2 linked regions of the Homo sapiens genome follow. The protein of the gene in region 2 purifies or fractionates together with the protein of the main gene of each other region. This does not show direct contact. Each region holds a gene or a part of one and is shown on either strand. Other genes may lie near its edges.

Evidence for each region.
Region 1: the proteins of DYNLRB1 (region 2) and SAFB fractionate together in Homo sapiens (co-fractionation; one large-scale study listed by BioGRID). This does not show direct contact.

What each region holds. Positions count from the first base shown.
Region 1 is NC_000019.10:5,647,083-5,651,507, reverse strand, and holds part of SAFB (scaffold attachment factor B1), read right to left. Parts: intron 3,493-4,425; coding exon 3,465-3,492; intron 2,520-3,464; coding exon 2,009-2,519; intron 1,583-2,008; coding exon 1,533-1,582; intron 531-1,532; coding exon 436-530; intron 1-435. UniProt on the Homo sapiens protein: Binds to scaffold/matrix attachment region (S/MAR) DNA and forms a molecular assembly point to allow the formation of a 'transcriptosomal' complex (consisting of SR proteins and RNA polymerase II) coupling transcription and RNA processing.
Region 2 is NC_000020.11:34,535,787-34,541,137, reverse strand, and holds the end of DYNLRB1 (dynein light chain roadblock-type 1), read right to left. Parts: intron 705-5,351; coding exon of another isoform or gene 682-704; exon of another isoform or gene 646-681; intron 558-645; coding exon 514-557; 3' UTR 180-513; downstream 1-179. UniProt on the Homo sapiens protein: Acts as one of several non-catalytic accessory components of the cytoplasmic dynein 1 complex that are thought to be involved in linking dynein to cargos and to adapter proteins that regulate dynein function.

The DNA of each region.
Region 1 (4,425 bases), on a different chromosome or scaffold from region 2:
ACCCAAGACACCCGTGGTGAGGACCCCTATCATCAGACTCCAGGGTCCCTGTTCTGAGTTCTGAGTTCCAGCATCACGAACACTGTTCTAAGAACACTGCTGTCTCCCAGACATGCTGACCAGCACCCCACCAGCCAACCCTGGCAGCCCAGCCTGAGTGCGACGTCCTGAGGACACAGAAATGGATCCACGAGCCATCACAGGGAAGGGGGCAAGCTCGCAGAGAAGGGAGGGAAATACAGTGGTGATGTGGGCTCTGGAAGCTTCCACACCACTCTCACCTCTACCTGTGGACGGGCAGACCCTCCCCAGCCATTAGCAAGTGTAAGCTCCTTGGTATCTCTCAAAGAACTCACTGAGGGGAGAGGACCTCCATGTAAAGGCCACACAACGCTGGTTTCAAAGTATCTTCTCCAGAAAAGCTCTGGCACTTACCTTCCCATATTTGCTGAAAAGATTCTTCAAATCTGTAGCTCTGGTTGTAGAAGAGAGTCCACTAACCCAGAAATTTCTACCACAACTGCTGCGACCTATTTCAAAAGAAAATTCTAGTAAAAACCCAAATACCCACAAGATCTTGAGTCTTAGAGACAACCTTTCCAAAAGAGACATGGTTCCCATTTTTCCTGAGGCAGTGGCAGCACTAAAAGCCAAATGGGGCTGTGGGCCTGACCACTATCCTCACCAAGAGCCTCCAGTGCAACACCAGGCCCAGCAGCACTACCACAGGGCCCGTCACAATACTGAGTGGGGCTATTGGGACAATGTGAGGTTTCCTAAGAAAGTTAGCAATTGCGGGCCGGGTGTGGTGGCTCACGCCTGTAATCCCAGCACTTTGGGAGGCTGAGGTGGGCGAATCACGAGGTCAAGAGTTCGAGACCAGCCTGGCCAACATGGTGAAACCCCATGTCTACTAAAAATACAAAAAATCAGCTGGGTGTGGTGGCGGGCGCTTATAATCCCAGCTACTCAGGAGGCTGAGGCAGGAGAATCTCTAGAACCCGGGAGTCAGAGGTTGCAGTGAGCTGAGATCGCGCCACTGCACTCCAGCCTGGGCAACAGAACAAGACTCTGTCTCAAAAAAAGTTAGCGATCGCTTAATTACAGGAGGAAGTGCAGTGTGCAACGGCCATGTAGCAGAACAGTCAACCTTGGTGTCAACAATGCACTGTTTCTCTTTCCACGTATAGCTCTGTATCTATCCCATGTTTTTACTCCTTTAGAACACTGATTAAGAAGGAATTTGGTAGGGTAAAATTATTTCTCAGTTAATGCATTTAATGAAGGGTTACAGGATGAATGTGCTCCCAACACAAGGATCTGCACCAAATCAGCCTGTTAACTCTTAGGACCTGGTATGCTTCCTACAACCCAGAACCTGTAGCGGTAACAGCAGAGAAGGAGAAAGACTGCACAAACGTCTCAGGAGTCTCCTGGGTAAGGAGCATAGCACGCGATGAACCAGAATCAAATACCCGCCACTGCCCAGGCCATACATGCTCCAAGGGACTGGTGTCGCCGAGGTGACCTACCCTTTTCCTCTTTGGAAAGCCTTTTTGTATCCGAGTCATCTTCGGGAGAACTAGAGACAAAAGACAATGTCACTCCACAAGGAAGCAGCATGGAGGAAACAAACTCAAAACCATAAAATTCGTGCTGAGGTTGCATACCTACCCGAAATTTAGTTCTGAAAAAATGATACCCCGACAAACTTGTATTGAAAATCTGACCTAACCATAAGATTTCAGACCCACAGGAGTTAATTAATTCTGCTGGGCTAAAGGTAATTAGGAAGAATTTAAGAACACAACCATGGTAGGTTGAGAAAAAGAAAAGGAATTGAATCACCCATTAAAAACACACAAAGAGAAACGAAACATTCTTTAGAAGCAAAACTACAATTTCGTCAGTCTGGCTGGCCAATTGCAGAAAAAAACAGCTTATGTGTGTCATTACATGACCAATGAAAAGGAGATAGCGTCTGGTCTAAAACTGAGAAAAAACAAACCTCATTTTCTGATCAGCGCCCTCACTGGTTGAGGACTCTTTAGGAGCCGGAGGGACTTCATTACAAGCGTCAAAATCAAACTTCCTCCCGTCTTCTTTGCTATCTCTGGCTTCTGGGCTTGGGGCTTCCGTGGGTGCTTCTGCGAGCTCCTCGCTAGAGGCCTCCGCGAGCTCGGAGGCCGCACTACTCTGCTCAACTGCCGGCTCTAGCCCTACAGGCTCACAGTCCGTCCTCTCGCCATCGCCTGGCTGCTCCGCGGGCTCCCTTTTCACTACCGCTAACAGGCTGTCTGCCTTGCTCGACTGAGCGTGTGCTGTTGACTCGCTGGCCAAATCTAAATCACCCTCTTCCGGATGGGCGCTGTCAAATAGGTCCTCTTCCTCCGCAAGCTTTCTGTCTGGCCCCACGCTACTTGTGTCCTGTGCAAATGGCTGCTCCAGCTCGGAACTTTCTTCTTTTACTGGCTCAGATTTACAAGTTTCCCCCAAAATGTCGAGTATTTTCTCATTTTCTACGGATTTAACAGGAATAGAATGGCACAAGGTTTAATTACCAGGGAAATAAAGCAATCACAAATGTGGAACTGGCACGGCTGCCACACTAACACGAAGAGAACTGCTAGCTACACAGAGATTGGAAAACCCGCGGGTACACAAAGTTATACTGGTTACACTACCTGCGCCGCGACCGCCTCTAGGTAAGCCTCTACGCTACACGGAAGAGAAAAGCATCCCAGAGATTTAACCCCCAAAACCTTCTGGCTGATTCTTGACAGTCTTCATTCTGTCGTCGTTTAGATATGACTCTTCCAAATTTAGCTTCCAAAGTCCAAGTTGCTTAACTGAATGTATCACCATTCACTGAACAGCTCAATTTCCAAATTTCTTTGAATTTCTTTTAACAGAACAGTCCAACATGAAAACCAGAATCTCTTCCATCCGTGCTCTGAGATATTTGCAGTCCAGAAAGTGAACAGTGTTTGGAATTCTCATGAAGACACTCTTTCCTCTTCTGGAATCCAGTTATGTCTCAAATTTATGTTTTAAAATGTATCTCCCTACCACTACCTGAGCTGCCTCAATTAAAAACAACAAAATTAAGCTACTGCCCAATATCACAAGATCTGTTTTGTGGGTGCAGAGGTATTAGCTCTCAAGAGAGGCATCTGGAACTCTTTCTCTATGTATGATTCAATGCTGTTGATATTCAAAAAGGCATGAGATACTTTCATCTCACCAATACATTTTGTAAAATGAGAAGTGAGCCACTTTCACAGATCTGGTGATATGGCTGGGTTTCCAATCTCTATGATCCTGGTAGGTTTTGGATTGTAAACCTTTAGAACAATGTATACTATAGTAAGGTAACTTTTAAAAATCAAAGAATTCAAATTAGAGAAGGTGGAAAACTAGAATGGTTCCAAACCCCCGCTGGTAAGTTTTTCATTTAACAGTACCTGGCTCCAGGGATGGCTCTTCAATTTCCTGCAAGAAAAAACGTAAATAAGACTGTGCCAGATGAATGACACCTACAGTTTATTTAAATGAAAACCCAGAATAACTAAAGAGGGAATTTTAAAAATCCAGGGAGGGAAACTCACAAACTCAAGAGGTGGAGAACCTGCTTGTTCTAGGAATGGCTCCATAAGACTGGCATCCACTTCACTCAGCCCACCCTCCATTCAGTCTCCCCTGCAGGAGCCTGGAACTGGTCTCACTTCATGGTGAGGCACTCATCATAAGCACGCCTGACCCTCTAGATTGAACTCTCAAATTCAAGGAGAGCAGTGTTTTCATTTTTCTACTGTTAGCATCTAGAGGAATGCATGGCACATTAACAGTCACTTTTTCACTCAATGAAGCTACGACAACTTTCTGATATTCGAAAGACTGAGGGAATATGGGCCCAGGTGGTATGACTCCTGCTCTTACTTGGCATGGTGGTGCCAGCATGAAAAACTTTGTAAATACCCTCCCTCCTTCATCTCCTCTTCCAATCAGTGTTCCCACCAGGCCAGTTCTAGAAGTCATTCAGACTCTTCCCAGGAAGCCCTGTCCACTCAGGCTGGTGCCATCCTTGCCTACTGTGGCATCTGGTTGTATTATCCCCATCCCATCTCTCTGCACCTTGTGTCCACAGTAAGCTCATGTCCCTCTGTGGCCTTCAGCCTTCAGCCAATGGATCCCTATGCCACCTCCCTCCCTGACAGGCCCAGCCCTCCCCTGCCCCGTCCAGCCAAGTCATCCACATCCCTCAGTATCCAGCTCAGTGGCATCTCCTTTCAGGAAGGCTTTCCCTATTTCCCTCTAACCCAACTCCAGCTGTGCCCCACTAAGCAAAGGAGCTTTTTCCACATGATGTGATCCCCCAGCCTTTATGTTTCCTGTGCACACAAGGTACACTCCTCTGGAATTCCA
Region 2 (5,351 bases):
ACCAATTATACACCAAGCTACACTAAGTATGGCCACAGGCACAAGAAGCAGCAGGCCTCTCGGACACCATGAACATCATCTCCCACCAGGGCTGGAGGAGGCAACCGGGCCTCCGACGTGTGATTACACAGGAAGAGTGAGGCCTTTTCAACCTAGTGTTTAAAGACACAACAGACGGGTAAGCATTTTGGTTATTTTTAGTTAAAGAAAAACAGCTTTCTCCAAGGGCGACAAAGTGAACTGAAGGTCAGAAGGAAGCTGGGTGCGGGCTTCCTGCAAGCTCTTGCTCCAAAACCTGGAAGTGAGGAGAGGGCGCTCCGGAGCTCTGGGGAAGGTTGGTGCACACAGGGGTTCCGTTGGTGGGGGAGAAGAGCCGCCAGCCCACACACGGTCACTGGATTGGTGTGAGTGGGTTCCAAGCGACTGCCATGTGCTAGTCCACTGACATGATTGACATTAACATTCTTGGGGGGCATTAAATTAAGGAATGACACAGGGAGCCAAGAGAGTGGCTTATTCGGTTGGATTCTGAATCACAATCAGGAAATAGTCTTTATCTGCAAAAGAGAAAAATGAAAAAAAATCACTAAATGTAAAATGAGAGAAAAACACACAAGAAAGCAAATAAACCATTAAATCACTAACCATAAAATGAGGAAGGGGAGAAAGCAACAAAAAGCATCAACGTTCAGCATCTCCAAATGCTGGGAAAACGGAAGATAAACCTTTAAGATTCCTGCAGGGGCTCCTGCAAGAGGGGCCTCCCCATACCGGGCAGCGGGCACTCTACAGTGTGTCGTCTCTTCTAATCCTCCCCACGACAGTGGCAGCAGGTAGGCAGGATTCTCACCCCTGTTTTCCAGGTGGGGGGACTCCAGTTCAAAGAGCTCCAATGAATTGCCTAAGGCCATGGTTGTCAAGCTAGCAGGCATCCCAACCACCTGGAGGGCTCTACGCCCAGAACCATCATTTAGTGGGGCTGGGGCAAAGCCCAAGAGTTTGCATTTCTCTAACAAGTTCCCAGGTGATGCTGATGTTGTAGGCTGTGGGAGGACCACTGGCTTAAGGTTACCCAGCTACTTAGTGTCAAAGATGGAATTCCGACATACTTCACTGGACTTGGGTAATGTCATTTTCTTTTTTCTCTCTCTCTTTTTTTCCCCTCCGCGAGACAGAGCAAGAGCTCTGTCACCCAGGCTGAGTACAGTGGTGCGATCATGACTCGCTGCAGCCTTGACCTCCTGGGCTCAGGTGATCCTCCCGCCTCAGCCTCCCATGTAGCTGGGACTACAGGCACACCCCACCAAACCTGGGTAAATTTTTAAAAAGTTTTTTGTAGAAGGTCAGGCGTGGTGGCTCACGTAGCACTTTGGGAGGCCAAGGTGGGCAGATCACTTGAGGTCAGGAATTCAAGACCAGCCTGGCCAACATGGTGAAACCCCATCTCTACTAAAAATACAAAAATTAGCCAGGCTTGGTGGCAGGTGCCTGTAATCCCAGCTACTTGGGAGGCTGAGGCAGGAGATCTGCCTGAACTTGGGAGGCAGAAGTTGCAGATCGCCTCACTGCACTCCAGCCTGGGTGATAAAGTGAGACTCCATTAAGAAAAAAAAAAAGTTTTGTACAGATGGGGTCTCACTATGTTGCCCAAGCTGGTTGCAAACTCCTGGGCTCGAGTGATCCTCCTGTCTCAGCCTCCCAAAGTGTTGGGATTATAGGTGTGAGCAACCACACCCAGCCAGTTAATGTCAATTTCTGTCACAAACTCAATTTGTTGGCTTTCCAGAACCTTCTGAATAAGAAAATTTCAAAATGGGACAAAGCAGCCTGGATTCCAGCTCCAGGGATCTGGCCCTGTAAGGAGGAATGTCCACCATTAAATCACAGCAAGTCCAAGTCCTTGGAGGTGAGCCTGAGTGCCTCCCGTTTCACTGAAGAGGTAACTGGAGAAGTGGTATTGTTGCATTTAGGGCTTGATGATTTGGAGTAAAAGACACTGATGTTACCGATTGTGCCTATTTTTATCAGTGGCTTGTTAATTATTTGTTTTCATTAGTGATTTTTATATATGCAGATTTACCCACTTAATCAAACTGCAAACATTGATCAAGGCTTCTTTGTGTCCAGGTCTGGGCCACCCACTTCTCACACGGCACCTCAGTGAATCCTCGAGTCACTCTGAGAACACGGAGCCTCAGAGAGTTAAAGGGCTTGCCCAATCCAGGGTAAATCCACAGGTGGAGTGGGGACAGGGACCTGGGTTTGACCCCATACTCTGAACTGCCCTGGTCTGCTGCCCCCTGCTGAGCATGAGCGAAATGGCAGGACCTCAGCCAAGTCACTTTGTGGCTGTTCAGAGCCAAGCCTAAAGCTTGGTTCTTCCCACGAAGATGGGCTGTTGCAACAGGGAAGAAACAGAAATGAAGTGACTAACAGTTTCATGGCTAACCAATCTGCATACATAAAAATCACTAATGAAAACAGAAATAATTAACAAGCCACTGATAAAAATAGGCACAATCGGTAACATCAGTGTCTTTTACTCCAAATCATCAAGCCCTAAATGCAACAATACCACTTCAGGTGCTTTGTGAGAGGTAGTGTGTGTTGAAGGTTGTGTAGGCTGAGTTAGTTACCTCAGCTTTAATACTAGTGAAGTTAATAAGTGAAAACTAGAAGTCTGTTTTTTTTGTTTTGTTTTTTGAGACTGGGTCTCGCTGTTGCCCAGGCTGGAGTGCAGTGGCGTGATCATGGCTCACTGCAGCCTCAACTGCCCAGGCTCAAGCGATCCTCCTGCCTCAGCCTCCCGAGTAGCTGGGAATACTGGTGCCACCATGTCCAGCTAACAAAAGTTTGTGTTAAAATGTCTTGGCCGGGCATGGTGGCTCACGCATATAATCCCAGCACTTTGGGAGGCTGAGGTGGGAGAATCGCTTGAGCCTAGGAGTTTGACACCAGCCTGGGCAACATAGTGAAACCCTGTCTCTACCAAAAAAAAAAAAAAAAAAAAAAATGCTGGGTGTGGCGACACATGCCTGTGGTCCCAGCAGTATACTAGGGAGGCTGAGGCTGCAGAGAGCCATGATCGCACCACTGCACTCCAGCCTGGGCAACAGAGCTAGACCCTGTCTCAAAAAAAAAAAAAAAAAAAAGCCTGTTCACGTGGGCGGTTCTGGGCCAGGGTGGGGTGAATGTGGCACACATGTGGAGAGCCACACTGTCTGGAACACCTGCTGCTGTCTGCAGCCTGGGAAGCAGTACCTCAGCTGGATGGGGTCAGGTCAGGCAGGTGGGAAGGCATGGATCTCCCTCCCGGGCCAGGCTGCTCCAGGCTGCCCACGATGTGTAGGGTGCTAACTACAGTCTCAAACGGGCACTTCCAGCAGCAGCCAGGCCTGCTCTACGCCTGTGGCCACCCCTGGGTCCTGTGTTCTGTAGCCATCCTGAGGCAATTCAGCGCCAGGGCCTCCTAGGCTCTGCGTGGTGGCTCCTGACCACAGGAGTTCTGGCACCAAAACCCAATTATTTTTTCTTGGCCACATAAAAGTGGGTATGTCAAAGTGTCAAATCACTGGTTTTCATCCTAAAACTATGCCCCACAGACATCCCTGACCCCGTCCCCACTGCTGACCCCACTTCTGACCCATATCAGTGGGGTGTCAGCAGTGGAGGGAGGTTTACAGAGTCATTCATTTATTTAATCAATGGATATTTGCTAGATGCTTACTATGTGCTTACAAGCCCCTGCCCTCATAGAACTTACTCTCAAGTGGAGTAGATGGCCTTAAAAATGCAGGTAAGCATTTGGTGACGAGGAAGGACTTGAGTGGCAGCAGTGAGGCTGAGCCAAAGAAGCATGCTCTGTAAGACAAGCTCAGCGCGCCACCGTCCTCCAGCACAGCGCCGCATGTGTGTGGGAGAGAGACAGTGTGACTTGAGAGCACGGGCGCCCCCTGCAGTGCTGCCAAGGTGAGGGACTGGCCACCTCATCCTCCTCCACTGACAAGGTTGTGGGATCTCCAGGCCTGTGAACCCCAAGGAGAACCCCCTACTTGGGAGCTGCCCATTCTGGACTCAAGCACCAACCACAGTCATGGGCTCTGAATGCCTGTGGGTCTTCAGGGCCAAATTGGAGACGCTGCCGCTGCCAAGTTGAGACCTGAATGGCCAGGAGCTTTCAGATGACACTGTCCTTCCAGAGGAGACATTCTCAGGAGCTTTATGCCAAGGGACACTGTCTGTGGAGAATTTGTCTGATTTGGAGACCAAGTAATTTGCTCCCTTCCCCCATACCCTGAACTCCCAGTGGGCCACTGGGGAGCACAAGGTCTGCTGTGCACAGGGTGAGCAGGGGGACTGTTCCCGGCCCAACTTTTTTTTTTTTTTTTTTTTTGAGACAGAGTCTCACTCTGTTTCCCAGGCTGGAGTGCAGTGGCGCGATCTCAGCTCACTGCAAGCTCCGCCTCCTGGGTTCAAGTGATTCTCCTGCCTCAGCGTCCCAAGTACCTGGGATTACAGGTGTGCGCCACCATGCCCAGCTAATTTTTTTATTTTTAGTAGAGACGGGGTTTCACCATGTTGGTCAGGCTGGTCTTGAACTCCTGACCTTGTGATCCGCCTGCCTTGGCCTCCCAAAGTGCTGGGATTACAGGCGTGAGCCACTGCGCTCCATCCCGGCCCGACTTTTGGGGAGTGAAGCTTTGTCCTCTGCAGTCACACAACATGACAACCTGGGAGGAACTGCAGTTTAAATCTGATTCCAAGGCTTTTTCCCCCAACCCAGGTCAACACACTCAACCAGGCAGGGTGGCTCAGGACATCAGCACAGCACAGTCCCCTACTCGACACTTTACAGATGTGGATTTGCAGGTGTTCTGCGACTTGCCCAGGGTCATGCTTGTGGGAAGCAAAGCTGGGAAAACAGATTCTGTGCCTCCTGCAGTCTTTTCTCCCCGATGGATCAGGCATTACACACAGAAGCGTGATTTTGGAATAATAGACTCTGGAGTTATTCTTATGTTCTTCTCTGTGACTGAACTGCTCTGTCCCCACCCCTCTAGGGAGTGTCCCAGGGAGCCTGTGGGCTGCTGTGACTGGCTCTATAGTTCTTTCCTGCCCATCCTTCCAGGCCTGGTGACAGAACCTATGCTGGTCTGCTGCAGGGAGTGGCTGACCTCCCATCAAATTACCTCAGAACTCTGTGGCCAGCCTCCTTGCCCTCTGTGTTGCCAGTCCAGAGCATTCAGTGTCCCCAGACCCCCCACTGCCTTCCTTTATCCAGGTCCTAATCATAATCCTATCACCTCCTGCCCTAAAAACCTCTGCTTGCAAGATCAAGTCCATGCAACTGA